Regions from separate parts of the Homo sapiens genome. Here region 1 is linked to region 2. Evidence: fine-mapped expression QTL. A gene starts in region 2. The other region holds a variant in brackets. All regions are shown on one strand. Distances are between the middles of the regions. Region 1 overlaps LOC105370680 (a long non-coding RNA gene). Region 2 holds the start of RCOR1 (REST corepressor 1).

Evidence for each region.
Region 1: its variant is fine-mapped to the expression of RCOR1 in monocytes after R848 (Quach 2016, PIP 0.95). The same link has a PIP of 0.9 or more in monocytes after Pam3CSK4.

Annotation. Positions count from the first base shown.
Region 1 is chr14:102,522,354-102,537,706 of GRCh38, reverse strand. LOC105370680 (a long non-coding RNA gene) reads right to left here. Exons shown (of 4, transcript XR_944239.2): 2 at 12,299-12,446; 3 at 6,679-6,851; 4 at 6,416-6,569. Among named protein-coding and RNA genes, the nearest start is that of MIR4309, 9.6 kb to the left of the region's middle. RefSeq lists an enhancer at 8,468-8,969 and a silencer at 12,865-13,164. The variant T/C (reference allele first, on the strand shown) is at 6,757.
Region 2 is chr14:102,581,515-102,595,840 of GRCh38, reverse strand. RCOR1 (REST corepressor 1) reads right to left here and starts at 3,192. Exons shown (of 12, transcript NM_015156.4): 1 at 2,654-3,192; 2 at 2,516-2,575. The coding sequence starts at 2,954. It also overlaps the pseudogene RN7SL546P. RefSeq lists silencers at 2,216-2,825, 2,886-4,195 and enhancers at 3,774-4,589, 4,871-4,920, 11,106-11,634.

The DNA of each region.
Region 1 (15,353 bases), 59 kb after region 2:
TGGATAAGGCCTCAGTGGAGACACTGTGGCCCTCACAGCAAGTCTGACAGACACACAAACAGAGACTTCAGGTCTTGCCCTGGGAGGAGAAGGAGCTGGCCCTGCTTCCTCTCCTGCCTGGGGAAGGATGTGCACACACCAGGAAGCCACCAAGAGGGGCTCAGATCCCAGCAGGTTTGCCCTTGGCCTGGGCCCCAGACCCCCCTGTGGTCCTAGGTCTGAGGACCTGCCTGGGGACAGGGCTGGGCCGCTGGTCCCAGGGCCTTGCAGCCCCAAGGGGAGGGCTGTGTTGGGCATCCTTGAAACTGGTGCCCCACCCAGCACCCTGACGTACTCCCCTGGGGGTCAGCTCTCCACAGCAGCTGAGGTTGGAGGGCTTAGGGGCCCCAGAAGTGCCTTGCCGGTCAGTCACCCTCAGAGCACCAGGGAGGACTCTCCCAGGAGCTTATTAGAAATGGAGGGTCCAGCCGGGCGCAGTGGCTCACACCTGTAATCCCAGCACTTTGGGAGGCCGAGGCGGGAGGATCACGCGATCAGGAAATCAAGAACATCCTGGCTAATACGGTGAAACCCAGTCTCTACTAAAAATACAGAAAATTAGCCAGGTGTGGTGGCAGGCGACTGTAGTCCTAGCTACTCGAGAGGCTGAGGCAGGAGAATGGCATGAACCCGGGAGGCGGAGCTTGCAGTGAGCTGAGATCGCACCACTGCACTCCAGCCTGGGTGACAGAGCGAGACTCCATCTCAAAAAAAAAAAAAAAAAAAAAAAAAAGAAATGGAGGGTCCTGGCCAGGCACCGTGGCTCACGCCTGTAATCCCAGCACTTTGGGAGGCCAAGGCGGGCAGATCACAAGGTCAGGAGTTCGAGACCAGCCTGGGCGACATGGTGAAACCCCTGTCTCTACTAAAAATACAAAAATTAGCCAGGCATGGTGGCGCAGGCCTGTAATCCCAGCTACTCAGGAGGCTGAGGCAGGAGAATCACTTGAACCTGGGAGGCAGAGGTTGCAGTGAGCCGAGATTGCGCCACTGCACTCCAGCCTGGGCAACAGAATCGAAACTCCATCTCAAAAAAAAAAGAAAGAAAGAAACAAGCCCCTGAACTCTGCTCCCTCTCCTGTCTCCAACTCACGAGGAGGAGCAGGCAGGCTCGTGGCTTATCTGCAAGGCTGTTGTAGTCGGGCGGGTCGGGGGACATAGGGTAATCCCTCCAGCGTCCTATCGATGTCCCTGGTCACCCTCCGCAGTGATTGCACGAAGAGCTTTCACTGAGCACTCCAGCTGTCCCGAGAGCTGTCAGGGGATCTCACCTGCTCAGGACTCCTCGTTTTGCAGTGGAGGAAAGTGAGGCACAGAGAAGTTATGTAATTTGTCTAGAAGTATGTAACACAGCTGGCATGCATAGGAGCCGGGATTCGAACCCAAGCCATCAGGCCCAGAACCCCTGCTCTTAACCATGAAAGTTATATGTCTTCTTGTGTAAAACAGCTGGAGCCCCCATCACGCGACAGGGAGAATGGCCATCTTTCTTCCCTGGGTCCTACAGGAAGTCCAGGCACCCCAGGGGCTTCCTCCATTCTGAAGAAAGACTAGGAAAACCTCTGTCCCAGGACACCCTTCTCTGCCGCCCACTGCCCGGCTGCTGGGGCTGCCTCACTGAGGTAGGTGTCAAGGGCACAGGAGGGGAGGGGTGCTCCCAGGGCCTGGCTGCCAGGGAATTTACATGCCCTAGAGTCACAATGCTTCATCTGGCTGGGAGCAGTGGCTCACGCCTGTAATCCCAGCACTTTGGGAGGCCGAGGCAGGTGGATCACGAGGTCAGGAGATCGAGACCATCCTGGCTAACAGGGTGAAACCCCGTCTCTACTAAAAATACAAAAAATTAGCCGGGCGTGATGGTGGGCGCCTGTAGTCCCAGCTACTTGGGAAGCTGAGGCAGGAGAAGGGCATGAACCCGGGAGGCAGAGCTTGCAGTGAACTGAGATCACGCCACTGCACTCCAGCCTGGGCAACAGGGCGAGACTCCATCGCAAAAAAAAAAAAAAAAAAAAAGAAAGAAAGAAAAAAGGAAAAAACAAGGCTTCATCTGCCCTTGCTGAAGTCTCCCCTTCCCCAGCACTCCCTCCACAGGCCTGGATCACAACCACATCCCCCTGCAGTTTCCCCAGTGCCTCTCCCCTCCCTGCCTGCCCCTCAGAGGGGTCAGGGCAGCAAGTAGCCTTGCAGGAAGGAACAGGGTGGCCTGGGGGCTCCTAGAGAGTCTCCCCCGAGCCACAGACTATCCACTCCAGCAAGGCATCCAGGCTCCCGTGTCACCAGAGGACAGATCGTTTTTTGTTTGTTTGTTTGAGACAGAGTCTTGTTCTGTCACCCAGGCTGGAGTGCAGTGGCGCAATCTCAGCTCACCGCAACCTCTGCCTCCTGGGTTCAAATGATTCTCCTGCCTCAGCCTCCCGAGTAGCTGGGATTACAGGCATGCGCCACCACGCCTGGCTAATTTTTGTATTTTTAGTAGACACGGGGGTTTCACCATGTCGCCCAGGCTGGTCTCGAACTCCTGACCTTGTGATCTGCCCGCCTCGGCTTCCCGAAGTGCTGGGATTACAGGCGTGAGACAAAACACCTGCCCCCCCCCTTTTTTTTTTCTCTGAGATACAGTCTCTGTTGCCCAGGATGGAGTGCAGTGGTGCCATCTCGGCTCACTGCAACCTCCACCTCCCGGTTCAAGTGATTCTCCTGCCTCAGCCTCAATAATAGCTGGGATTACAGGCACCTGCCACCATGCCCAGCTAATTTTTGTATTTTTAGTAGATATGGGGTTTCACCATGTTGGGCAGGCTGGTCTCGAACTCCCGACCTCAGGTGGGCCCACCTCAGCCTCACAAAGTGCTGGGATTACAGGCTAAGCCACCGCGTCTGGCCCAGTTTTTTTGTTTGTTTGCTTTTGTTTTTGAGACTGAGTCTCACTCTGTCGCCCAGGCTGGAGCGCAGTGGCGCGATCTTGGCTCACTGCGAGATCTGCCTCCTGGGTTCATGCCATTCTCTTGCCTCAGTCTCCCGAGTAGCTGGGACTACAGGTGTCCGCCACCACATCTGGCGAATTTTTTTTTTGTATTATTAGTAGAGACGGGGTTTCACTGTGTTAGCCAGGATGGTCTCGATCTGCTGACCTTGTGATCTACCCGTCTTGGCCTCCCAAAGTGCTGGGATTACAGGTGTGAGCCACCGCGCCCAGCCTGGCCCGGTTTTTGTAAATAAGTAAATATACATCTTTTTTTTTTTTTTTTTTGAGACAGAGTCTCGCTCTGTCACCCAGGCTGGAGTGCAGTGGCGCGATCTCAGCTCACCACAAGCTCTGCCTCCTGGGTTCACGCTATTCTCCTGCCTCAGCCTCCCGAGTAGCTGGGACTACAGGTGCCCGCCACCACGCCGGGCTGAGTTTTTGTATTTTTAGTAGAGACGGGGTTTCACCGTGTTAGCCAAGGTGGTCTCGATCTCCTGACCTCGTGATCCTCCCGCCGTGGCCTCCCAAAGTGCTGGGATTACAGGCCACCGTGCCCGGCAATTTACATATATTTTTTGCAGAGAGGGAGTATCGCCATGTTGCCCAGGCTGGTCTTGAACTCCTGTGCTGAAGGGATCCTCCCATCTCAGTCTCCCAAAGTGTTGAGTTGTGTGAACCAGAGCAACTCCATCTTGAGCAGGGGCTGAGTAAAATGAAGCTGAGACCTACTGGGCTGCAATCCCAGGAGGTTAAGACATTCTAAGTCACAGGATGAGATAGGAGGTCGGCACAAGATACAGGTCACAAAGACTTTGCTGATGAAACAGGCTGCAGTAAAGAAGCTGGCCAACACCCACCAAAACCAAGATGGCGATTAAGAGTGACCTCAGGGCGTCCTCACTGCTACACTCCCACCAGCACCATGAAAGTTTACAAATGCCATGGCAACGTCAGGAAGTTACCCTATATGGTCTAAAATGGGGAGGCATGAATAATACACCCTCTATTTAGCATGTAATCAAGAAATAACCATAAAAATGGGCAAGCTTGGCCAGGCATGGTGGCTTAGGCCTGTAATCCCAGCACTTTGGGAGGCCAAGGCAGGGAGATCATCTGAGGTCAGGAGTTCTAGACCAGACAGGCCAACATGGGGAAACCCCGTCTCTACTAAAAATACAAAAAGTTAGCCAGGCGTGGTGGCTCATGCCTGTAATCCCAACTGCTCTGGAGGCTGAGGCAGGAGAATCGCTTGAATACAGCAGGCAGAGGTTGCAGGGAGCCAAGATCATGCCACTGCACTCCAGCCTGGGAAACAGAGGGAGACTCCATCTTAGAAACAAACAAACAAAAGGGCAACTAGCTGCCTTCGGACCTGCTCTGCCTTAGCCATTCTTTTTTTTTTTGAGATGGAGTCTTGCTCTGTTGCCCAGTCTGGAGTGCAGTGGCACAGTCTGGGCTCACTGCAACCTCTGTCTCTTGGGTTCAAGAGATTCTCCTGCCTCAGCCTCCCGAGTAGCTGGGATTACAGGTGCCTGCCACCATGCCCGGCTAATTTTTTGTATTTTTAGCAGAGGCATGATTTCTCCATGTTGGCCAGGCTCGTCTTGAACTCCTGACCTTGTGATCTGCCTGCCTCAGCCTCCCAAATTGTTGGGATTATAGGCATGAGCCACCGCGCCCAGCCCAGAACAGGCAACATTTTTTTTTTTTTTTTTTTGAGACGGAGTCTCACTCTGTCGCCAGGGCTGGAGTGCAGTGGCGCGATCTTGGCTCACTGCAACCTCCGCCTCCTGGGTTCAAGCGATTCTCCTGCCTCAGCCTCCCAAGTTGCTGGGATTACATGTGCCTGTCATTATGCCCAGGTAATTTTTTTGTATTTTTAGTAGAGACGGGGTTTCACCGTGTTGGCCAGGCTGCTCTCGAACTCCTGACCTGGAGATTCACTCGCCTCGGCCTCCTAAAGTGCTGGGATTACAGGCGTTAGCCACCGTGCCTGGCCAGGCAACTTTTAAACCCAAGCAGCTTCTGTTCTTGTCTTTGACCACCCTGGGCTCCCTGCGCCAGAGTCTCAAAATGTCAAGGCAGGGAGTGTCCTTGGAGATGATCTTTCTACATCCTCATTTCAAAGACAGGCAGGAGCTCAGAGAGGTGAAGGGATTTGCCCAAGGACACACAGCTTCTCAGTGATTACATCAGCTATTGCTCACGGTCCTCCACTTCCACTCCCCACCTCCACCTCCCACAGAGATCCAAGGGATTAGAAGCTGATATTTTATCAGGGCATTTGCTGCCTGGAATTAAGACATTTCCCAGCCTCCCTTACACATAGGTGTGGCCATGTGACTAATTTTTGGCCTCAATGTAAGGAGTGTGTTTGACTTCATAAAGAGTTCTTAAAGGGAAAGGCACACTCTACTCCCTTCTCACTTCTGGGAATGCAGATAAAATGGCAGGAGTTTCAGCAACCATTTTGAACACGAAGTGATCTCAGAAATGAAAACTATTCATGTGGCCCAGTGCAGTGGCTCATGCCTGTAATCCCAGCACTTTGGGAGGCTGAGGCGGGTGGATCACCTGAGGTCAGGAGTTCAAGACCAGCCTGGCCAACATGGCAAAACCCCGTCTCTACTAAAAATACAAAAATTAGCCAGGCATGGTGGTGGGCGCCTATAATCCCAGCTACTTGGGAGGCTGAGGCAGGAGAAACCTTTGAACCTGGGAGACGGAGGTTGCAGTGAAGCCTCGGCGACAGAGTGAGACTCCGTCTTAAAAAAGAAAACTAGGCCGGGCGCGGTGGCTCACGCCTGTAATCCCAGCACTTTGGGAGGCCGAGGCGGGTGGATCATGAGGTCAGGAGATGGAGACCATCCTGGCTAACATGGTGAAATCCAGTCTCTACTAAAAATACAAAAAAATTAGCCAGGCGTAGTGGCAGGCGCCTGTAGTCCCAGCTACTCGGGAGGCTGAGGCAGGACAATGGCGTGAACCGGGGAGGCGGAGCTTGCAGTGGGCCAACATAGAGCCACTGCCCTCCAGCCTTGGCAACAGAGCGAGACTCTGTCTCAAAAAAAAAAAAGAAATGGAGGGTCCAGGCCGGGCGCGGTGGTTCACACCTGTAATCCCAACACTTTGGGAGGCTGAGGCGGGCGGATCACAAGGTCAGGCGTTCGAGACCAGCCTGGGAAACCGAGGGAGACCTCCATCTCTACAAAAAGCACGAAAATTAGCCGGGCATGGCGGTGTGGGCCTGTAGTCCCAGCTACTTGAGAGGCTGAGGTGGGAGGATCACCTGAGCCCAGGAGAGGCTGCAGTGAGTTGTGATCGTGCCACTGTTAGCGTTGGAGGGTTTCCAGGATCTTGGTGTCTTGAACAAAGAATTGGACAAAACGTATAAACAAATCAAGGAAAGAATGAAGAAACAAAAGCAGAGTTTTATTGAAAACAAAAGTACAGTCGACTGCACAGAGTGGGAGCGGCCGGAGCACGTTGGCTCAAGAGCCCGTCACAGAATTTTCTGGAGTTTAAATACTCTCTAGAGGTTTCCATTGGTTATTTGGTGTGCACCCTATGTAAATGAAGAGGCTTAAAGTGAGTTACTGAAGTGAAGTTACAAAGCTATTTACTGGGTGTACACCCTATGTAAATGAAGAGGATGAAGTTACAAAGTCACTTACTTGGTGAACGCCCTATGCAAATGAAGAGGATATTTCCTGTCGTAGCTGAAATGCCTCCTCTCTCCTCTCCATCTGATT[T/C]AGTTCTGGGAAGTCCTCAGGTTCCCTTCCTCTAGGACTTATTCTCCCGTCTCACCACTGCACTCAAGCCTGGGCCCCAGAGCCAGACTCTGTGTCTAAAAAAAAGAAAAAAAGAGGCCAGGCACAGTGGCTCACACCTGTAATCCCAGTACTTTGGGAGGCTGAGGCAGGTGGATCACCTGAGGTCAGGAGTTGGAGACCAGCCTGGCCAACATGGTGAAACCCCGTCTCTACTAAAAGTACAAAAAATCAGCCAGGCGTGGTGGCGTGAGCCTATAGTCCCAGCTACTCTGGAGGCTGAGGCAGGAAAATCACTTGAACCCAGGAGGCGGAGGTTGCAGTGAGCCAAGATTGCGCCATTGCACTCCAGCCTGGGCTACAGGGCAAAACTCCATCTCAAAAAACAACAGCAAACAAAAAGAAAAAAAATAAAACCAGGTACGGCAGAGCCACAGGATGAAAGGAATAAAGGCAGCCCAGGTTCCTGACACTGTGACACTCCTTGCCATATAAGCCCTGGGCCCCTCTAAACAGATTTTGTTTTTGTTTTTGTTTTTGAGACAGCATTTTGCTCTGTTGCCCAGGCTGGAGTGCAGTGGCACAATTCAGCTCACTGCAACCTCCACCTCCCGGGTTCAAGTGATTCTCCTGCCTCAGCCTCCCAAGTAGCTGGGATTACAGGCGCCTGCCACCACGCCCAGCTAATTTTTTTGTATTTTTAGTAGAGACGGGGTTTCACCATGTTGGCCAGGCTGGTCTCGAACTCCTGACCTCAAGCGATTCACTCCCCTTGGCCTCCCAAAGTACTGAGATTACAGGTGTGAGCCACCGCGCCCGGCCGACATCTTCACAATGAGAGAAAAATAAGCTTCCATTGAGTCTGAGCTGTCCTTTTCTGGGGTTTTCTACTGGGTCCGCTTGACTCTGAGTCTAACACTTTTCTTGCTCTTCCAGAGTTTCTTCTCTGAGGAGGTACAGTGAGGAACAGAGAGGTCTTGGTTCAGAGTAGGCCCTGGGGTTTATGATTTGACATTTTATGTAGGGTGCAGGGACCCCAAATGATTTCTATCTTCATTATTCTATTTATTTATTTTTTGGGATCAGTTTCGCTCTGTCACCCAGACTGGAGTGTAGTGGCGCCATCTTGACTCACTGCAATCTCCGCCTCCCGGGTTCAAGCGATTCTCCTGCCTCAGCCTCCTGAGTAGCTGGGACTATAGGGGCGTGCAATCACGCCCGACTAATTTTCGTATTTTTAGTAGAGATGAGGTTTCACCATGTTGGTCAGGCTGGTCTCGAACTCTTGACCTTGTGATCTGCCTGCCTTGGCCTCCCAAGGTGCTGGGATTACAGGTGTGAGCCACAGCGCCCGGCTATTTTTTAATTTTATTTTATTTTTGAGATGGAGTTTCGCTTTTCTTGCCCAGGCTAGAGTGCAGTGGCACGATCTTGGCTCACCACAGCCTCTGCCTCCCAGCTTCAAGTGATTCTCCTGCTTCAGCTTCCTGAGTAGCTGGAATTACAGGCATATGCCACCACGCCTGGCTAATTTTGTATTTTTAGTAGAGACCGGGTTTCTCCATGTTGGTCAGGCTGGTCTCGAACTCCTGACTTCAGGTGATCCGACCACCTAGGCCTCCCAAAGTGCTGGGATTACAGGCATGATCCACTGCACCCAGGCTTTATTTTTAATTTATTATATTTTTTTCAGACAGGGTGTTGCTCCGTTGTCCAGGCTGGAGTGCAGTGGCGTGCTCACAGCTCACTGCAGACTTCACCTACAGAACTCAAATGATCCTCCCACCTCAGCCTCCAGAGTAGCTGGGACTCTGCCATTGCACCTGGCCCAGAAATGATTTTTAGTAGTTAACTCCTTTTTCTTTCTTTTTTTAATTTTTGTTTTTTTGAGACAGTGTCTCACTCTCTCACCCAGGTTGTAGTCCAATGGTGTGATTGCCATTCACTGCAGCCTCAACCTCGTGGGCTCAAGTGATCCTCCCACCTCAGCCTCCCGAGTAGCTGAGACTACAGGTGCACGCCACAACCCCCAGCTAATTTTTTTTTTTTTTTTTTTTTTTTTTTTTTTTTTGTAGAGAAGGTTTCACCATGCTGCCCTGACTGGTCTTGAACTCCTGGGTTCAAGCGATCCTCCTGCCTTGACCTCTCAAAGTGGTAGGATTACAGGCTTGAGCCACTGCGCCCGCCTGCTAAACCCCTTTTCACAGGAAATTTTACTCAGAAGCTCAACAACAACAATAACAAAATCACTTCCTGAACTGAGAATGTCCAGTTGAAGTGAGTGGGGTGGGAGCCCTACCCACGTGGCCTCCCCTCCTAGGTCCCCAGTTCCCTAAGACACTCCCAGTTCCCTAAGCCTCTGGCACAGCTACGTATTTATTTATTTATTTATTATTTATTTATTTATGAGACAGAGTCTCGCTCTGTCTCCCAGACTGGAGTACAGTGGCACGATTTCAGCTCACTGCATCCTCTACCTCCCAGGTTCAAGCGATTCTCCTGCCTGAGCCTCTGAAGCAGCTGGGATTACAGGTGTGCACCACCACGCTCAGCTACTTTTTTGTATTTTTAGTACTTTTTGTATTTAGTATTTTTTTTATTTAGTAATTTAGTATATGTTGTATTTTTAGTGGTTTCACCATGTTGGCCAGGTTGGTCTCAAACTCCTGACCTCAGGTGATCTGCCCACCTCTGCCTCCCAAAGTGCTGGGATTACAGGCGTGAGCCACTGTGCCCGGCCAGGGCTACATTCTCGAAAGCACCTTCCTGCCCCCTGCCTTACCCCAGGATGGCAGGACCCAGTCTCTGGGTGTCAGAGAGAGTGACGGGAAGGCTACAGTGACTCAGCCTGGGAGCCACCAACAGCCATCACCCCTGGGCCTGAGGTCGGGCAGGGCTGCTTGTCACCCTCGGGAGTCTTTGGCTCCGGGGACTCAGGGCATAGCAGCACCTTCCCCAAGCCCTCCCCATCCCACAGGGCAGGCGTGGGAAGCAGCAGGTCCCACCTTTCCCCAGGATACTGCCTGGCAATGCCTGGGTAGCTGGAGTCTGGGTCAAACCCAGGGGAGCAGGAAGGCCCAGAGCCTCAGTCCCACTGCCAGGCCCCTCAGGCTCCTCCTTCATCAACAAAGCAAATGAAGGCAACAAACTCAGAGTGCACCTCTCCACCCTTCCCTCTGCTCCATGAGTGGCCACGCCACGCCCAGCCCTGCCCTGCCCTGCCCTGCCCCATGTCTTCCTCCCCACCGCTCTGTGACTCAGAGTTAAGAGATGAGACACTCTGAAATCACTCTAGGGTGAGGGGCTGGCATTTGTGTTGCCAACCTGATGTTCCCAGGAGGCACCCACAAACTACACCCTTGGTGGCTGAGGGTGCATCCTTCTGTTCAGCGAGTCATCAGGAAGCATGTCACAGTGGAGTGGTGCTTTCTCCATTGGTGGCAGGTGGAACACAAGCTTCTCGAAGTTTTCCACCATTGTTTCCCTAGTTGTGCAGGCCAATTGACCAGGATAATGGAGGCCTGCTGCTATCACAGAAGAACCTTGCTTTATCAAAAATCCACGTGAGGCTGGGTGTGGTGGCTCACGCCTGTAATCCTAGCACTTTGGGAGGCCAAAACAGGGAGATCACTTGAGGTCGGGAGTTCAAGACAAGCCTGGCCAACATGGTGAAACCCCGTCTCTACTAAAAATACAAAATTAGCTGGGTCTGGTGGTGCAGGCCTGTAATCCCAGCTACTTGGGAGGCTGAGGCAGGAGAATCGCTTGAACTCGGGAGGCAGAGGTTGTAGTGAGCTGAGATCACGCCACTGCACTCCAGCCTGAGCAACAAGAGCGAAACTCCGTCTCAAAAAAAAAAAAAAGAAAAAAAAAAGAGCAAAACTCTGTCTCAACAAAACAAAACAAAACAAAAAAACAAAACAAAACAAAAAACCCAAACCAAAAAACTCCATGCGAGTGTTACGCGGTACCCCTGCAACATGGGAATCCTTGTGTGATGCAAAAGTTAGGTTTTATGCATTTGCTCAATTTTGCACCTCCCACTCCAAATGGCCACGGAAGGCTGGTGCGCCGGAAGGTGTTCTGTGTCTGTCCGGTGGCTTCTCCTCAACCTAGCCTGCACTCGCCAGGCTCTCATTCTTGTAGTTCAGAAGCAAAGTTTTAGAGAGAGTATGGATTTTGCCATTGGAATTGCTGGCTTCCGGTTGTGGCTGTGTGACCTTGGGCATGTCACTCGACCTCTCTAAGCCTCCATTTCCTCTCTGCTTTTAGTCCCCACTAAGGCCAACGTGTGTATGGAAGTGGGGGTGGGGCTGGGGGTTGGGATGGCATTTTCTTCCTTGGCAGACAGGGCCCTTGAGAGCCTTAAAGAGGGGCCGGGCGCGTTGGCTCATGCCTGTAATCCCAGCACTTTGGGAAGCCAAGGCGGGCAGATCACCTGAGGTCAGGAGTTCAAGACCAGCCTGACCAACATGGTGAATCCCAGTATCTACCAAAAATACTAAAATTAGCTGGGCATGGTGGTGCATGCCTATAGTCCCAGCTACTCAAGAGGCTGAGGCAGAGGCAGGAGAATCGCTTGAACCCGGGAGGCAGAGGTTGCAGTGAGCTGAGATGGCGCTACTACACTCCAGGCTGGGTGACAGAGTGAGTCATGGTCTCAAAAAAAAAAAAAAAAAGAACCTTAAAGAGGACTGCTATGAGTTCTCCTTGCAGACGAGGAAAGTACCCCAGTTTGACCCCTCAGTCTCCGGCTCTGGCTGGGTAGGGCCATCCTGGCTTGGTACTTTTGCCCTAGCTCAGGCCACGGTGAGCCCCCCGGTGAGCAAATGCTCTTGGTCATGCCATGCAGAGGCTGGGCTGGGCGCTCTGTGGATCCCCACGCAGGATGGGTTCTGGGGTGCACAGAAGAACCTTTTTCAAACATGGTGGTAAAACGCACATCACATAACACTTACCGTTTAAACCATGCTTAAGTGTACAGTTCACGTCTTTGCCATGGTCAGGGGAAAGAAGGAGGAAGGGAGGAATGGAAAGAAAGAAAAGAAAAATAAAGAAAGAGAAAGAAAGGAAGGAAGGAAAGGGAGGGAACAAACGAATGAAAGAGAAAGAAAAAGAAAGAGAAAGAAAGGAAGAAAGAAAGAAAAAGAAAGAAAGGAAGGAAAGAGAAAGAGAAAAAGGAGGGAAAGAGGGAAAGAGAAAAAGAGGAAGGAAGGAAGGAAAAGAAAGAAGGAAGGAAAGAAGAAAGGAGGCAGGGAGGGAGGAAGGAAGGAAGGAAGGAAGGAAGGAAGGAAGGAAGGAAGGAAGGAAGGAAAAAAAAAGCGTACAGTTCAATCTAAGCCGAAACTCCATACCCATTAAACAATACCTCCCCATTCACGGCTCCTCCCAGCCCCTGGCAACCACTATTCTACTTCCTGTCTCTCTGAATTTGACTACTCTGGACACAGAATGTAAGTGGAATCCTACAGTATTTGTCTTTTTGTGACTAGCTTATTGCACTCCGCATAATGTCAGGGTTCACCTTTCATCCATGTTGCAGCATATGCAGAATTTCCTTCTTTCTGCGGTTAAAGAGCTCTCCACTGTCCGTATAGACTGTTTGCTCACCCCTTCACCCGTCCGTGGACCCGTGGGCTGCTCCCACCTTTTGGCTGTTGGGAACGCTGCTACTGTGAAAGTGGGTGTGCAAATGGAAGAACATTATTTTGATGGTGTTGAATTTGGTTTAACCCATATTAGAGCAAACATAAGGAGCACAGCAAACATCACAGATATGAGATGAATGCTTAGGGTGCGGCTGCAGTGACGAAGTGATTTCAGGTCAATCACGAAAGGGTGACAGCGGACAGGATGAGAGTCGCCAGGAGCCAGCGAGAATGACTTCGGTTTGAGAAAGTCTAAGCTGGGTCAAGCCAAGGAGGAGCCCAGGCCACTCGCCCCGCGTCTCCCTCGCCGGGATCCCCTCCTCGGACCTCCCCCTCCTGTCTCCGGGCTAGCCCTTCTGCCTGCGGCTACCACACTCCCCTGGGGCAGCTTTGGCCCCGGGTTCCAGGAAAGCATCTGATTGGCCGTGTTCTCACTAGGCCAGCCCTGATAGATCACTGGCCAGCCTATGGATAGGCTCCCCTCAGTCAGATGCCCATGCCTGGTCCAATCAGCGGTGGGAAGCCGGGAGGGTCGGGGAAGTAGCTGTGGCTGGCGGGGCTCCCAACTCCTGCAGGGACTCCTGGCGGGTCCAAGGTGAAGCCCGGCCAGTCTCAGGCTTCACAGCGCCCCCTGGTGGTCCGGGGCGGAGGCGGGGAGGAGCCCAGGCAGCCGCAGGGCGAGGCTCAGGGCAGGCGTGGAGGCTCAGATCCGTAATCTCAGCACTTTGGAAGCCAAGGGGGGAGGATCGCTTGAGATTGGGAGTTTGAGGCTAGCCTGGGCAACATAGTGAGACCCCCTATCTCTACTAAAAATTAAATTTAAAAAAAGGGGGTCAAGGTCTGAGCATGGCTGACTCCACTCTGGACTCCATACCTGAGGGTAACCAAGGGAAGGGTGTTGGGGAGCGGTCCTGCCTGGGGCTGACCCCCCAGAACCTGCCCAGCTCCCCTTCTATCTGGGGCTGGGGGAGTTGGTTAGTGCGGGGTGGGGTGCGGGGACCCAGAACCCCCCAAAGCTGCTCTTCTCTCCCGGGCAGCCTCTGCCTTCTCCCAGCCCCCCTTTCATCACTCAGGGAGCCCTGAAAGTGAGGACCTCAGGTACTGTGCGTTTCCTAACCTCGCCTCAATCCTGGGTGTCCTGTTTGGACTCTGGGGCCCTCTGCGCGGCTCTCAGCGAATCTCTCAGCACAGGGGTGCATGGGTACCCCGCCCTTTGGTTCCAGGCTCAAGTCAGTGGCACCGTGTCCCCTCCAGGCCAGAGAGAGGGGTCTGCTCCCAGCGGTTCGTGGGCGGCTGGGGCTGGCGCACACCCTCTCTGCCTTTCCCTCCCGAAGCGCCGCCGTGGGCCAGGCCCCACCCGAACGGGGAGCGTCCCTAATTGCCCTGCACTAATTGCAGCTTCACCTGCGCGGCTGGGCTGGCCTCCCCTGAGCCTGGAGCTTGTTATTGGAAATAAGCCGATTTCTCCAGTTTGGGAGAATTCAGACTTGGGGGTTGAACTACTTGTGATTTGGGGCATTTATCATTGAAAATAGGCCTCGTTCCCTCACGGAGAGTTTTCTGTAAACAACTCGGCGCCACACATCCAGGCTCGCGTATCCGGGGCCCTGGGACCACACACAGGCCCCAAGGGTTTGGGGGCTGAAACCGGGAAGGTTCAGGGCTGCCTCCAGCATTGACCGGGTCTCAGCTGAGCCACAGCCCATCTGAAGGCTTAACGCAAGCTCTGGCTCTTTTTTTCTCTTTCTTTCTTCCTTCCTTCCTTCCTTCCTTCCTTCCTTCCTTCCTTCCTCCCTCCCTCCCTCCCGTCTCTTTTTTTCTTTCTCCTTTCCTTCCTTCCTTCCTTCCAGCCACAGCCCATCTGAAGGCTTAGCCCAAGCTCTGGCTCTTTTTTTCTTTCTCCCTCCTTCCTTCCTTCCTGCCACAGCCCATCTGAAGGCTTAGCTCAAGCTCTGGCTCTTTTTTTCTTTCTCTCTTCCTTCCTCCTTCTCCCTTCCCCTCCTCTTTCCTTTCTTTTTGACAGAGTTTCACTCTTTCACCCAGGCTGGAGTGAAGTGGCTCACTGCAACCTCTGCGAACCCTTCCTTCCTTTCTTTTCTTTTCTTTTTCTTTTTTTTTGACAGAGTTTCACTCTTTCACCTATGCTGGAGGGAAGTGGCTCACTGCCTCCTGGGCTCAGGCAATTCTGCCTCAGCCTCTCGAGTAGTTGGGATTACAGGCACCCACCACCACACCCAGCTAATTTTTTGGTACTTTTTAGTAGAGACGGGGTTTCACCATGTTGTCCAGGCTGGTCTCAAACTCCTGACCTCACGTGATCCACCAGCTTCAGCCTCCCAAAGTGCTAGGATTACAGGCGTGAATCACAACGCCTGGCCCTTTTTTTCTGTTTTTGAGATAGAGTCTCCCTCTGTCACCCAGGCTGGAGTGCAGTGGTGTGATCACAGCTCACTGAAGCCTCAAACTCCTGGGCTCAAGCGGTCCTCCCACCTCAGCCTTCCGAGTAGCTGGGACCACAGGCACGTGCCACTATGCCTGGCTAATTTTTAAAATTTTTGTAGAGAAGAGGTTTTGCCATGTTTCTCAGGCTGGCCTGGAACTCTTGGGCTCAAGTGATCCTCCTGTCTTAACCTCCCAAAGTGCTGGGATTCCAGGTGTGAGCCACCCACACCTGGCCTTCTCTAAGAGTTTTATTGATGTAGGCCATGAGTGGTGGCTCACACCTGTAATCCCAGCACTTTGGGAGGCTGAGGCAGGTGGGTCACTTGAGACAAGCCTGGGCAGATGGCGAGAATAATTATTGCTGAATAATTTCCATTGTATGGAAATCCCACACTTTATACATCTATTCACCAGTTAATGGATATGCCTTTCCATTTTGAGGGTATTATGAATAATGCTGCTATGGATGTTGACTAAAGAAATAAAATG
Region 2 (14,326 bases):
ATGAGAGGCCGAGACGGGCGGATCACGAGGTCAGGAGATCAAGACCATCCTGGCTGACACGGTGAAACCCCGTCTCCACTAAAAATACAAAAAATTAGCCAGGAGTGTTGGTGGGCGCCTGTAGTCCCTGCTACTCTGGAGGCTGAGGCAGGAGAATGGCGTGAACCTGGGAGGCGGAGCTTGCAGTGAGCTGAGATCACACCACTGCGCACTCCAGCCTGAGGGACAGAGCAAGACTCCGTCTCAAAAAAAAAAAAAAGAAATTTGGAAATTTTAATATCAATACTCAACCAATTGGCAGCAAGACTATGCAGCAAAACAGTTAGATGTTTTCCTTTTTATTTCTGAGACAGGGTCTCACTCTGTCACCCAGGCTGGAGTGCAATGGCCAGATCACTGCTCACTGCAGCCTTGACTTCCCAGAGATCCTCCAGCCTCAGACCCCCCCGTAGCTGAAACTACAGGCACATGCCACCATGCCCAGCTAATTTTTTTATTTTTTGTTGAGACAGAGTCTGACTACATTGCCCAGGCTGGTCTCCAACTCCTGAGCTCCAGAGATCCTCCAGCCTTGGCCTCCCCAAGTGTTGGGACTACAGGTGTGAGCTACTGCAATCTGATAAATGTTTTCCATTTTAGAATAGCTGGTCACTAGCAAGTTTATGCTCATATCTATTCCAACAAAAAGCCCAAAGACAGTTCAAAATATTATATTTGCTGTTTCAAAGAAAAGTATAACTCCAAAGAAGTCAAACTCATTACTAACAATGCAGAGCTGATGTCAATATTTCGATGAATGTCAGAAATCTAATTCCTGTTGTTGACAAATATGCCCTTTTCCTTAGTCACATCCAACACATCTACATAAAGTTTTCAAAATTTATGTTAACAAAAATGTATCAAAAAGCCTACCAACTTACTCAAAGATTTGTGGAAGTCGATTTTTAAAAATAATACATTAGGAAAATTTGGTAACAAGCTTTATGTTCTGTGTTTTAAAGCAAAGATAGACTTGACCTACAAAATGAAGACAGGGTCAACTGTAACCAAAAAACAGTATGCTTCCCCTGGTGGCCAACCAAGGAACGGAGGAGCCAAGCATACAAGAGATATAGCCTGGCCACCTAGTTCTATCCTGTCACTCATAAACGAGAAGTGACTACCAAAAAAAAAAAAAAGAATTGGGGAGAAGAGGAAACTATCAAAAACACTAACATGGACTTAAAAGAAACACAAACGCGAGTATTAGACAAATAAATTTAACAGATTTACGTCAACAAATCAAAATTTAGAAGGCCAATTTAGGAAGTCATTTATTTCCAGAGTGTCCAAGAGCTCACCTAGGACCTCTATGTATTTTCACTTCAAAGTGCAGTTTAGTACCTTAATAACAGCTTGAGAGCAATCGCCTTTTTCAAGGACTAGATCATTGCAATTTTCTGCAGTCTTGTTTCCAAGGAAAAAACATGTATGCGTTTATCTTTTCAAATAAACTAGTGGTATAACCCACATACAGAACCCCAGCTCTAAAGCCCTCCAACCATGGAGGATTGTTAACTCCAGCTTTACAAGATGCTCTTTTGAATTTTATTTCTGAAATAAATCCTACGTTCTTTCAAACATTTTCCATACCAACAACCTTTAAAGACAGTCTCATACAGACACTGGCTAGAATCTCATGCATTAAAATCTGACGAATTCCTTTGTCTGATCGGATTTTTTTTCTTGTACCACTTTAAATTTGCTTCTACACAGAATAGCAGCCAGGGAACTAAGTGTTCCATTCTAGGGTGTAGGGCTTTCTTGTAGGTGAAAAGCATTTGTTAGGCTAAAGCTTCTGATGCTTCTCAATTTCACAATCTCTTCCTCCAAAAAAAAGGAAATACACACATTTACAAATAGGTCCTAAAATCCAACTGCCACACGCGAGACTCTCTTCCCCAGGCAGGCGCCCTCTGGAAAACACACTTCTTTTATTGACTGGTTTTGGGGGGTCGTTCTTCTACTCGCCTTCTGGATGGGAGGGCAGTCAGGAGCCAGCAAGAGCCCAGAGGCTGAGAGGAGGAGCAAAGGCGTGGGGAGCAGCCTTTGGGAAGGGTTCCGAGAAAGGGGTCTCTGGGGACCTCCTAAGTCCGGGGCGCTCGCAGGACACTAACTCTCCGGCACTGCCACCCTTACCCCTGGCCGAGGCGCAGCTCACCTGGACGCAGGGACCCCCAGCGCCCCCAGGCCAGGTGTGGCCACCTCCGACGCCACCCGCAGTCCTCGGAGGCGCAAGGGGGCAGCGGCGCCGGCCCTGCTGGGGGCGACCTGGCCTCCCCCGGGTGCAGAGGCACGTTTGCAGAACACTCGTGTGCGTGTGCGCCTCCTCGTCCTCGCCCTGCTGTTCTCCCCACGGACGGCAGGGCGAACGCACAAAAAGAAAGTTGTCGGCGGGCTCCCGCCCCCTCGGGCTCGCCGGGGACCCGGGGCTCCCGCTCATCCCCGCCGCCGGCCGGCCGGGGCCGCTACTCACCGGGGTCGAAGTCGGGCACCACCGCCTGGTACTGGGGTCCGACCCTCATGCCACCGCCACCTGCGGGGGAAGCAGAATACGGCGGTCAGCGCGGCGCGGGGCGCGGGGCCCGGGGCCGCGGGGGCGGCTGCCACCTACCGTGCTCCTCGTCGCTGGACGAGCCCGAGCTGCCTTCCTCCCAGGAGTTGCTGCTGCTGTTGCCATTGGGCGCCGCCGCCGCCAAACTTTTATTCTGGCCATTATTGGGGGCGGCGGCGGCTGAGGCGGCGGCGGCCGAGGCTGAGGAGGCGGCGGCGCCCGAGGCGGCAGTGGCGGCTGGCGAGGCGCAGGCGGCCGAGGCGGCGGCGGAGGCGGCGGCGGCGGAGGCGGAGGCGGCCGCGTTGTTCCTCCCTCTCCGCTTCCCTGAGACCTCGGGGCCCTTCTCCACCATGGCCGGCATCGGCGGGGGCCGGGGCCGTGCGAAAGTGGCGGGGACCCGCGGCTCCTGAGGAGGGGGCGCCGAGACGGGGGAGGGGGCGCGGGGCCGGCGCGGGGCCGGGCGGGCGCGGCGGGAGCCCACGGGCGCGAGTCCGAGTCGGGGGAGGCCCAAACGGGCAGAGCGCGGAGCCGCTTCAAGCCCCCAGCGACGAGCCGAGCGCAACTTTCGCTCTCATCGCCGCCCTCACTTCACTGGCACCAACTACTCCGGGAGCAGCGAGCGGAGAGGGGAGGAGGCAGGGGCGGGGCCTGCAGGGGCGCCGGGGGAGGGGGGCGCGCAGCCCAACTGACGCGAGATGGCTCCGCCCCCCCTCGCGCTCCCATTGGCTCTGGTGGGATTTGGACAGCCAGCGGCAGCGGGGTTGGCTCCGCGCGCCCGTCCGTCCGGGGCGGCGGGGCGGGGGAGCGGGGAGGGGCGGCTCCGGGCTTCCGTTGGCGAGGTTCGGTTGACGCGTATCGCCCGCCGTACGTGGTTTGAGGTTTGCCATCTCCCTACGCCCCATGATCCATCTCTCCAGGCAGCGGCGAGGAGTTCGCGGCCCTCCCCGCCCCCTACCCTTGGCCGCGGCCCCTGCCCTTGCTGCCCGCGCACGCCTCCCGCAGCCTCTGGCCCCCCATCTGAAGGACCCCGCTGAGAGTCCCGTCGACTTCTCAAAGTAAAATGTGTCTGGCGCTGGGAAGCCGCGGAGCGCCCGGCCGGGACTACTTTCCGCTGCGCGGAGGAGTACGGGCGCGCTAAGACTCCATACAAAGAGGAAACTAATTGGGGGAAACTCGCTGCGCCCCCGCCTTTCCCAGGGGACGCGGGGCTGGCGGGGGCGGGGGCCGCGGCGCGGGGGACGGGCTTCCCAGGCGGCCGCCTCCCCTGGCGCGAGCTGCGTGGGGACTCGGGTCTGCGGTGCTGCCCGCTAATTGGGTGGGGGAGGCCGGGGCCCCCGGGGTGGCTTGGGTGCGGGGTGCGCCGCGGCTTCAGAGGCCCAAGGGAGGGTCCCCGTGGGTCCCCGGGGCACAGAGTCCCGGCGTGGGGACGCCCAAGCCGCCTGGGTGGCCGCTGAAAGATGAATGAAGGGGCCCAGTCGTCCTGGGGCGGGGGTCCAGGAAGGGTAAAGAGGAAGAAGCTATTTTCATCCCAAGCTCTCGGCACGGGAGGAGGGTCAACTTCTTTCGGGGCGAGGGCAGCCACTTTTCCGGACCTGCCGCCCGCCCCGCCTCCCTACTCCCCCCGGCACCCCCACGAGGGAGAACACGGGGTGCGGGCGGGTGGGGTAGGCTGAGGCTAGCCTGAGAGCCGCTGCCTTGGAGAGGGACCACCGGGCAGCCGTACAGCTGTTAGGAGGCTGAGGAGTGTAACTGCCTTGGAGGTCCCGGTGCCCTACCCCCAGCCAACCCTGAAACTACGCGCCCTTCGTAATTAGACCAGTGGAGGTCTATACGGAAAATCTTTTTAAAGCAGGGAAGGCTATTTTTCTTTTAAGTTACTTCAAACCTGAGCTTAATTTGGGGACTAGCTCTGGATATAAATAGCTACAGGGAGAATTTGGGAGTTTTATGGTTTTAAAGCCTGAGTAAATAAGCAGGGTTTTGTCTTGAACATTTTCTGCAGCATGAACCATTATTAACTTTATTGAAGAGACCACGTTCACTTCTGCCTAAATGGCCTTTAAGAAACAGGGCTGGGAGCCCTCCTGGTATAGAAGCCCTTCCCCCACCAAGTTCAGGTGGGGGACTTAGACTTTTAGACTCTCCTCAAAAGTACGTCCCTCTCCTTGGAGTGCCCTGGATGCTGCAGGTGTGTGCCCCAATACACCCTGTCAGCTGGCCTGGGCAGGGTACAGAACCGGGGTGGCATTCCCGGGGCTGGGCCACCGGCTAAGGCCTCTGACTCATCCGGAGGTGAGCCCTGTGTGAGGAATGAGGTCCAGAACACGCTGCCCCGCTCGCTTGGTGTCTACAAAGTTCTGCCACGAGACTAGAAGGATCAACCTACAAGGGCACAAAGGTGATACTGGGTCATTAAGGCAATAGGGATAGCAGAGCACACAAGGCCGCCCTCTCCACCCACCAGCCCCCAAGGCTGAGGCCAGGCTGGGCTACCAGTAGGGGCGCAGCAGTGGACTTGACAAGCATTCTTTTTTTTTTTTTTCCAACGAATATTAACACTTAATATGTGCCGGGCCCTGTTCTATTTTGTCTGACCCTAATGCTACACCGATACTGTATTGGCCTGAAGCTCTCAGATTTACCAACCGTAAAATACAGGAAACAGTACCTACCTCCTGGCCTGATGGACTGTAATAGAGTCCATCCTTCCAGCATAGGGAACCCCAACGTTAAGGACACTCGCCTTCCCATCGCTTGGGGAGAGGGCTCCACACACAGCCCTGGGATTGGGAATTTGTGATCCCACACTTCTAACGCATCCACAAAGCCGGCAGCCCTATCATGTTTTTCGGTGAGACTCCCACTCTGAAAGTGAGACCTCATGCCTGCTCCCCTCTCCTTACACCTCCCACAGCCCCTTCTGCCTGGGCTCCTAGCCCGTGGCCTTACCTCATTCTTCAGAGAAAAACGAAAGCCTTCAGGATCTTTCTCCTCTCCCAGTACCCAAACAGACAAACTTCCCTGTCGGGTACTCACGTCCTCCTCAGGCCTAGGACCCCATCCCGCTGCCCTCCCCTCGAGGCTTTTCTGTGCCATCAGCCTCACTCTGGACCGACTCCTGCCCCCAAACCCTCTCCTGCCTCTGGCCATTTCTCCCTCCCTTCAGACATTTCTGTAGACTTCCCTACACTCACCTCCTCCACCCCTTCCCGTCCCAGCCTCTCATCACCCCATCCAGCAGGGCTGTGTCCCCACCCCTTAACTGCTGCTAAGGTAACCTACAACCTCTCCGCTGCCCAATCCGGGGGTCACTTCTTGGTCTCGCTGAGCTTCTCAGCAGCAGCTGAGTCGACCACTCCTCCTCCTGGAAACCCTCACTTATCTGGACCTGGGGATTCCAGTTCACCTGGTCCTGCTACCTCACAGGTCACTCCCCATCAGTCTCCTCTGCAGCTTTCAACCTGTCATCGTTGGGATTCCTCCTTGCCTTTTTCCTTTCATTAATTTTTTTTTTATCCAGAGTCTCACTCTGTCGCCCAGGCTGGAGTCCAGTGGCACGATCTGGGCTCACTGCAACCTCTGCCTCAGCCTCCCGAGTAGCTAAGATTACAGGCACCCGCCACTACACCCGGCTAATTTTTGTATTTTTAGTAGAGACGGGGTTTCACCATATTGGCCAGGCTGGTCTTGAACTCCTGGCCTCGTGATCCGCCCGCCTCGGACTTCCAAAGTGCTGGGATTACAGGCTTGAGCCATGGCGCCCGGTGACATAGCGAGATCCCGTCTGTATAAAACAAAAACAAAAAAAAAAACTGTGACCCTATGACCATCTCGTCCCCCCACCCTAAAAAAAAACAAAAACTATGACCATGACCATCTCATACCCCACCCTTATAGATGAGAAAGCTGAGGCACCCAGAAGTGAAATATCTTCCTAGGATCAGGCATGATATGAGGGGAGGAGCCGGGGCACAGCTAAGCCAGGAGCTATGGAGCCTCTTAACCAAGGCCAGAGTTGCCCCAGGGATTCTGGGACGGCCAGGGGCAAGGGTGTCTGCAACATGCTTGGTCTGATGCTAAACATACAGTGTTTATAATTTTGTATTCATTGTATTTTCCCAGAAAAAGGGAAGGGAAAAGAGTCAGCATGTGTTATAAAATGATTAGAAAATGGGAAAGGAAGTACCTGGTACAGCAAAATCAACCATCAAATGAACATACCCCAGTGATGGAGTCATCAAAGCCCAAAGGGGCTCCGTCTCCTTCAGTTCAGGAATGAAGGGAAGGGATCAGGAAAAGGAGAGACGGGTACAGGCTTTCCTACCCCAGTGTTTATAGTTCTTCCTGCTGCTAATTATTATTATTACTATATTTGGGCTTGTTAGAAAATTCTGTTTGGCAAGGAATTCCTTTCCCAAGAATGGAGCCAGGCAGAGGGCAGGGTATGGGCCAGGGCTGGGAAGTGTCAGGAAAACACCCTAAAGCCATTCCTGGGAGGTTTCAAGCCCCCAAAGGACTATTGGAAAACTGAGACTTCAGGCTGGAATTTTAGCCATCCTAAGAGTTCTGAACCTGGAATCCATGGATAGAATTCTGGAGACCATGAACCAGAGCTGGTAAATACATCTTTATTTAAATTAACCTTTAACACCAAGTGCGGTGGCACTCACTTATAATCCCAGGTACTTTGAGGCCTCCAGCAAGACCCCTGTCTCAAAAAAAAAATCAACCTTTAACCAAAATCCAGCATTTTCTTCACTTATGAATGTAGGTGATATTCCATCTCAACACATTGCAGTCACTGGAAATATCTCAAAATAGCATTTATTTATTTATTTTATTTTTATTTTATTTTTTGAGACAGAGTCTTGTTCTGTCGCCCAGGCTGGAGTGCAGTGGCATGATCTCAGCTCAGTGCAACCTCCCGGGTTCCAACTATTTTCCTCCCTCAGGCTCTGAGTAGCTGGGATCACAGGCACCCACCACCACGCCCAGCTAATTTTTGTGTTTTTAGTAGAGATGGGGTTTCACCATGTTGGCCAGACTGGTGTCGAACTCCTGACGTCGTGATCCGCCCACCTTGGCCTCCCAAAGTGCTGGGATTACAGGCATGAGCCACCGCGCCCAGCCTCAAAATAGCACGTATACTCGTCTCCAAAATCACAGAAGTTATTAGACCCACTGCTAGAACTTGTTACTTAATATGTTAATAACTAAGCAAGTAAATCGTAGACCTAATTGTAAGACCTAATTGTAAAACTATAAAACTGTCAGATGAAAACCTAAATCTCTGTGACCATGAGGTAGGCAAAGTCTTCTTGATTACGATGCCAAAAGGATAAGGAACAAAAGAGAAAAATTGGAATTCATAAAAATTAAAACTTGTGTGGGTGAGCATGGTGGCTTACGCCTGTAATCCCAGCACTTTGGGAGGCTGAAGCGGATGGATCACCTGAGGTCGGGAGTTCGAGACCAGCCTAACCAACATGGAGAAACCGCGTCTCTCCTACAGATAAAAATTTTGCTGCAGATGGTGGCAGGCTCCTGTAATCCCAGCTACTCGGGAGGCTGAGGCAGGAGAATCACATGAATACAGGAGGCGGAGGTTGCAGTGAGCAGAGATTGCGCCATTGCACTCCAGCCTGGGCAACGAGCAAAAACTCCGTCTCAAAAAAACAAACAAAAAAAAGATTAGCTGTGGCTGGATGCGGTGGCTTACGCCTGTAATCCCAGCACTTTGGGAGGCCAAAGCGGGCAGATCACGAGGTCAGAAGATCAAGGCCATCCTGGCCAACATGGTGAACCCCATCTCTACTAACAATACAAAAATTAGCTGGGTATGGTGGTGCATTCCTGTAATCCCAGCTATGGGGTGGCTGAGGCAGGATAATCTCTTGAACCAGGTAGTCGGAAGTTGCAGTGAGCGGAGATCACGCCACAGCACTCTAGCCTGGCAACAGAGTGAGACTCCGTCTCAAAAAAAAAAAAAAAAAAAAAGATTAGCCAGGCGCGGTGGTGGGTGCCTGTAATCTCAGCTACCTGGAGGCTGAGGCAGGAGCATCACTTGAACCTGGGAGGCAGAGGTTGCAGTGAGCCAATATCGCCCCCCATTGCAGCCTGGGTAACAGAGCGAGACTCCTGTCTCAAAAAAAAAAAAGGCCAAGAAACTCATGCAAAGATGCTCAATGTTAGCCGTCAGGGAAATGAAAAAACCACAAAGAGATGCCACTTCTTGCCCACCAGGATAGCACTCATCAAAAAGATGCAGTAACAAGTGCTGGAAGCCACTGCTGGTGGGAATGTAAAATGGTGCAGCTGCTTTGGAAAATAGTCTGGCAGTTTCTCAAGAAGTTAAACATAGAGTTGCCATTTGACCCAGAAATCCCACTCAGAGATATATACCCAAAACAACTGAAAACATATGTCCACACAAAAACTTGTGGGCAAATGTTCATAGCAGTATTATTCATACTTAATGTCCCTCATCTGATGAATGTTTAAACAAAGTGTGGTCTATCCACACTGGAATATGGGTCAGCCATAAAAAGGATGCTACAACATGGATGAATCCTGAACAGGTTAAATGAAGAAGCTAGTCACAAAAGACCACATAGTGTATGATTCCATTTCTATGAAATGTCCACAACAGGCAGAAAGCAGATTATTGGTTGCTGAGGGAGAGAGGAATGTGGAGTGACTGCAAATGGGTACAGGGTTTCTTTCTGAGGTAATGAGATGTTCTTTTTGTTGTTGTTTTTTGTTTTTTTGTTTGTATGAGACGGAGTCCCTGTCGCCAGGCTGGGGTATAGTGGCGCGATCTCAGGGTGCAATCTCGACTCACTGCAACCTCCACTTCCTGGGTTCAAGCGATCCTCCTGCCTCAGTCTCTCAAGTAGCTGGGAATACAGGTGCGCACCACCATGCCCAGCTAATTTTTTGTAGAGACAGGGTTTCACCATGTTGGCCAGGATGGTCTCGATCTCTTGACCTCGTGATTCACCTCCCTCAGCTTCCCAAAGTGATGGGATTACAACCGTGAGCCACTTCACCCGGCGAGATGTTCTAACATTGATTGTGGTGATGGTTGCATGACTCTGGATATACTAAAACTGCTGTATCGGACACTTCTCATGGGTGAATTGTATGGCATGTACTATGAATTATATCTCAAGGAAGCTGTTTGGAAAATAGAGATAATTAAATAACAGAAAGAATGAGGAGGAAGAAGACACAGAAGAACACATCATTCAGGGTCTCCGCGTTTCTGTAGATTTCGTTTCCTTTGCATCCTTCATTTGCCAGGGTGTTGGAGGAGATGGCCTCCCTGCCAGGACTTGAGACTTCAGGCCTGGCTTTCCACACCCACACCTTTGCTAGGGTGCCAAGGCCAGTGTGGGTGCCCCACCCCGTTCCCACAAGGCCACCCCGAGGAGTCCTCATCCCCATGCTCCTGGTGGGTCACGTCCACACTTTACGGTTATGTCAATCCTAACTCCAGCCTTGCAGCCAGGGCACCCTCCCGGTCCAGATGAACAAATGGAGGCCAGGCTGGGAGCTTGTCATCGCGATAAGATTATCGAGGGGAAGTGTGAGCCAGGCCCTTTCCTGCCCAGCCGCCCCGCCCTTTCTTTACATTCCCTTAGGAATGCTTTTCACTCTGTCTAAGAAGCTTCCCGTGAGGCATGGGCGGACGGCAGCAGCAGGCCTGGGACCAGTGTGAGGCCTCCCTCAAGGGGCCGCAGGCATGTGGGAAGACCAGCTCGGGCAGAGCTCAGACCTAGGCTGAAGCAGGTCTCTGCCCAGGAGAGGAGAGGGCCTCCTGCCTAAGCTGGCCTCAAGATTCCCCACTTTTGGGACCTCTCTTCCCAGGATTGCCCAGGGGTGAGGCTCCCACCAGGCCACGCGACCCAGATCATGCCCCTTGGCCTTCACAGCTCAGCTCGCAGGCCCCCTTCTCCAGGAGCCCTTCTGAACCTCCTGACCGCCTCAGCCCCCTGTCCCAGGCCCTGGTGTCCCCACTCCTGGCACTGATGACAGTTGTCATGAGCCATGCTTAGGGCTACTTGTGTTTCCCTCCCCCCTGCCCCCACCCCGAATTGTAAGCTCTGCAAGATAGGGTCTCACTCTTGTGTGTCTGGAATCCCGTGCCCAGCACAGAGCCTGCCACGCAGCAAGGGCTGCTTCAGTCACCACTGCTGACTTTGTCTTGGGGTCAGGCTGGGACATTTAAACCAGACCCCAGTAAGAGTGTAGATATATTGGCAGGGATATAGATAATGAGCAGAGCACTGGCTTCCCAGCAGCCTCGCAGCAGACAGATACCGGCTACACCAACATTTAGACCCTCAGAGAAAAGGGTGTTCTTTTCTCTGTCTAGAAACTGCCTTCCAAGAGTGGTTTCCTGGGCTGGGCACAGTGGCTTACACCTGTAATCCTAGCATTTTGGGAGGCCGAGTCGGGCGGATCAGTTGAGGTCAGGAGTTCGGGGTCAGCCTGGCCAACATGGTAAAGCCCCGTCTCTACTAAAAATACAAAAATTAGCCAGGCGTGATGGTGGGCGCCTGTCTTCCCAGCTACTCAGGAGGCTGAGGCAGGAGAATCGCTTGAACCCGAGAGGGGGAGGTTGCAATGAGCCTAGATCGTGCCACTGTACTCCAGCCTGGCGGACAGAGCAAGACTCCATCTCAAAAAAAAAAAAAGAAAGGTTTCCTGGCTGAGGACCTACCCCTTGTCCACAAGAGTGACAACTAGCCCTCCCGTCCCCCAGGATCTTTCAGTAAAAGACAAACCAGGGAACTCTCCCTGGGACAGACAGACAGATACGGATGGCCCTAGTGGGCAGGGGTGGGACGTGGAAAGGCTTGCTGGCATTCAGTCCTGCGGATGGTCAGGCCTGGCCCAGCTAGATGGGCCTCCATTCACCTCTCGTTCACAGATGAGAGACACATGGGGCTTTTCCCCAGGACACTGCAAGTACTGGGCCTGTCAAGAGTGACACGAGGGTGCCCTGGGAGGTGGGATACCTGGGCCGTACTCTTTCCTCTACCAGCTTAGATACCACGACACCCTTCCAACTGCCATCCCCTAATGACATGACAGCCAGAGATCATCTTTGAAACAAGGGCTGGATCACTTCCTTCCTGGCTTACAACCCCCACCACCCCCCACCCCCACCCCCGGTCCCTACGGGGATTTCCTGTGGGCCAAGGATGAAATTCCAAACACTCCACAGCTGGCCCCAGGCACATGAGGCATGGCCCTGCCTCCAGCTCCACTTCGACTCCTGGCCTCATGTCTCCCCTCCCCTTCACACCCTGCACCTGCCTCAGGGCCTTTGCATAAGAGCAACAACTAGCCCTCCCCTCCTCCAGGATCTTTCAGTAAAAGACAAACCGGGGAACCCTCCCTGGAACAGACAGACAGAGAGATGGATGGCCCTAGGAGGCAGGGGTGTGACACGGAGAGGCCTGCTGGCATTCGGCTGTTTCTAGGCCGGGAACACCTTTCCCCCAATCTTCCCAGGCTTCCTCTGCCTTACCCCACCTACATGTCACCTCCTCCAGGAGCCTTCTGACCATCCCATCCATGGGAGGTCCCCACCCCTGCCCACTCCGGGGCTGTGCCTCATTACCAGCCCTGTCTCAGCTGCAGCCCTGGGACTCTTGGTTCTTGTATCTCTCTCCCTCCCCAGACCCCACCCCGCCCAGGACCTCTTGGTGTTGCCGTCCTGCTTGCACTGCTCCAGTGTTCAGCAGTGCCTGGTCTAGAGGAGAATGTGTCTCAGAGTCTCCTCTGCTGCGCACACATCTTGGGGCTCCTGGGAGTGACGCAGGGGATAGCCGAAGACCCTCTTCTCCTCCAGCCATCTCCCTCAATTTCCCCTAGCATCTGCCTTGCTGGCAGCCCCATATCATGTCTCTCCCTGCACTGGCCTAGCACACGGAGGGGAGAAGGGAGTGCCTGCTTCATGGACATGGGTTTCCTGCTGGAACTTCACTGTGGAGATGGTTGTGCAACATCGTGAATGTACTGTATGTCCCTGAATTGTACATTTGAAAATGATTTAAATGGCCAGGCGTGGTGGCTCACACAGCTTTGGGAGGCTGAGGCAAGAGGATCGCTTGAGCCCAGGAGTTCTGGGCTGTAGTGCGCTATGCCGAGAGGGTGTCCGCACTAACTTTGGCATTAATATGGTGACTTCCGAGGAGCAGGGGACCACCATGTTGCTTAAGGAGGGGTGAACCACCACCCCAGGTCGGAAATGGAGCAGGTCAAAACTCCCAGGCTGATCAGTAGCGGAATTGTGCCTGTGAATAGCCACTGCACTCCAGCCTGGGCAATACAGCAAGACCCTGTCTCTCTTTTTTCTTTTCTTTTTTTTTTTTTTTGAGACGGAGTCTCACTGTCACCCAGGCTGGAATGCAGTGGTGCAATCTCGGCTCACTGCAACCTCCGCCCCCTGGGTTCAAGCAATTCTCCTGCCTCAGCCTCCCGAGTAGTTGGGATTACAGGGGTCTGCCACCTCACCCCTAAAATGTATGTAAAAATACAATACTAATTATTGTATTTTTAGTAGAGTTGGGGTTTCACCATCTTGACCAGGCTGGTCTTGAACTCCTGACCTTGTGATCCACCTGCCTCGGCCTCCCAAAGTGCTGGGATTACAGGCGTGAGCCACCGTGCCTGACAACCCTGTCTCTTAAAAAAAAAAAAAAAAAAAAAATTATAGGCCGGGCGCAGTGGCTCAAGCCCGTAATCCCAGCACTTTGGGAGGCCGAGGCGGGCGGATCACCTGAGGTCAGGAGTTCGAGACCAGCCTCAACATGGAGAAACCCTGTCTCTACTAAAAATACAAAATTAGCCGGGCGTGGTGGCGCATGCCTGTAATCCCAGCTACTCAGGAGGCTGAGGCAGGAGAATTGCTAGAACCCGGGAGGCAGAGGTTGCAGTGAGCCGAGATCACGCCATTGCACTCCAGCCTGGGCAACAAGAGTGAAACTCTGTCTCAAAAAAAATAATAAAGTAAAATAAAATAAATTACAGGGATGAGGCAGGGAGGACAAAAAAAAAGAAAAATTTATTATTATTATTATTTTTGTTGTTGTTGTTGAGATGAAGTCTCGCTCTGTCGCCCAGGCTGGAGTGCAGTGGTGCAATCTCGGCTCACTGCAAGTTCTGCCTCCCAGGTTCACGCATTTCTCCTGCCTCAGCCTCCCTAGTAGCTGGGACTACAGGCGCCTGCCACCACACCCGGCTAATCTTGTTTTTTGTATTTTTAGTAGAGACAGGGTTTCACCATGTTAGCCAGGATGGTCTCGATCTCCTGACCCCATGATCCATCCGCCTCAGCCTCCCAAAGTGGTGGGATTACAGGCGTGAGCCACCACACCCGGCCAACAAATTATTTTTTACAATTCCACACCCAATGTCAACTCTGCCTCCAGACACATCTGGAGTCCAGTCCTCTCTCGTTCCCCCACTGTCCCCACCATGGGGCAGGCCTCCTCACATCTCACCTGGCCTCCTTGCTTCTATCTTTGAAGCATGGGGCACAGAAGAATACGGCTAATACAGAAACCATATCACGTCTGGTCCTGCTCTAGACCGTCACCCAGAACAAAAACATAGGCTTGGTCGGGCACAGTGGCTCACTTTGGGAGGCTGAGGCGGGTGGATTGCCTGAGCTCAGGAGTTGAAGACCAGCCTGGGCAACAACGGTAAAACCCCGTCTCT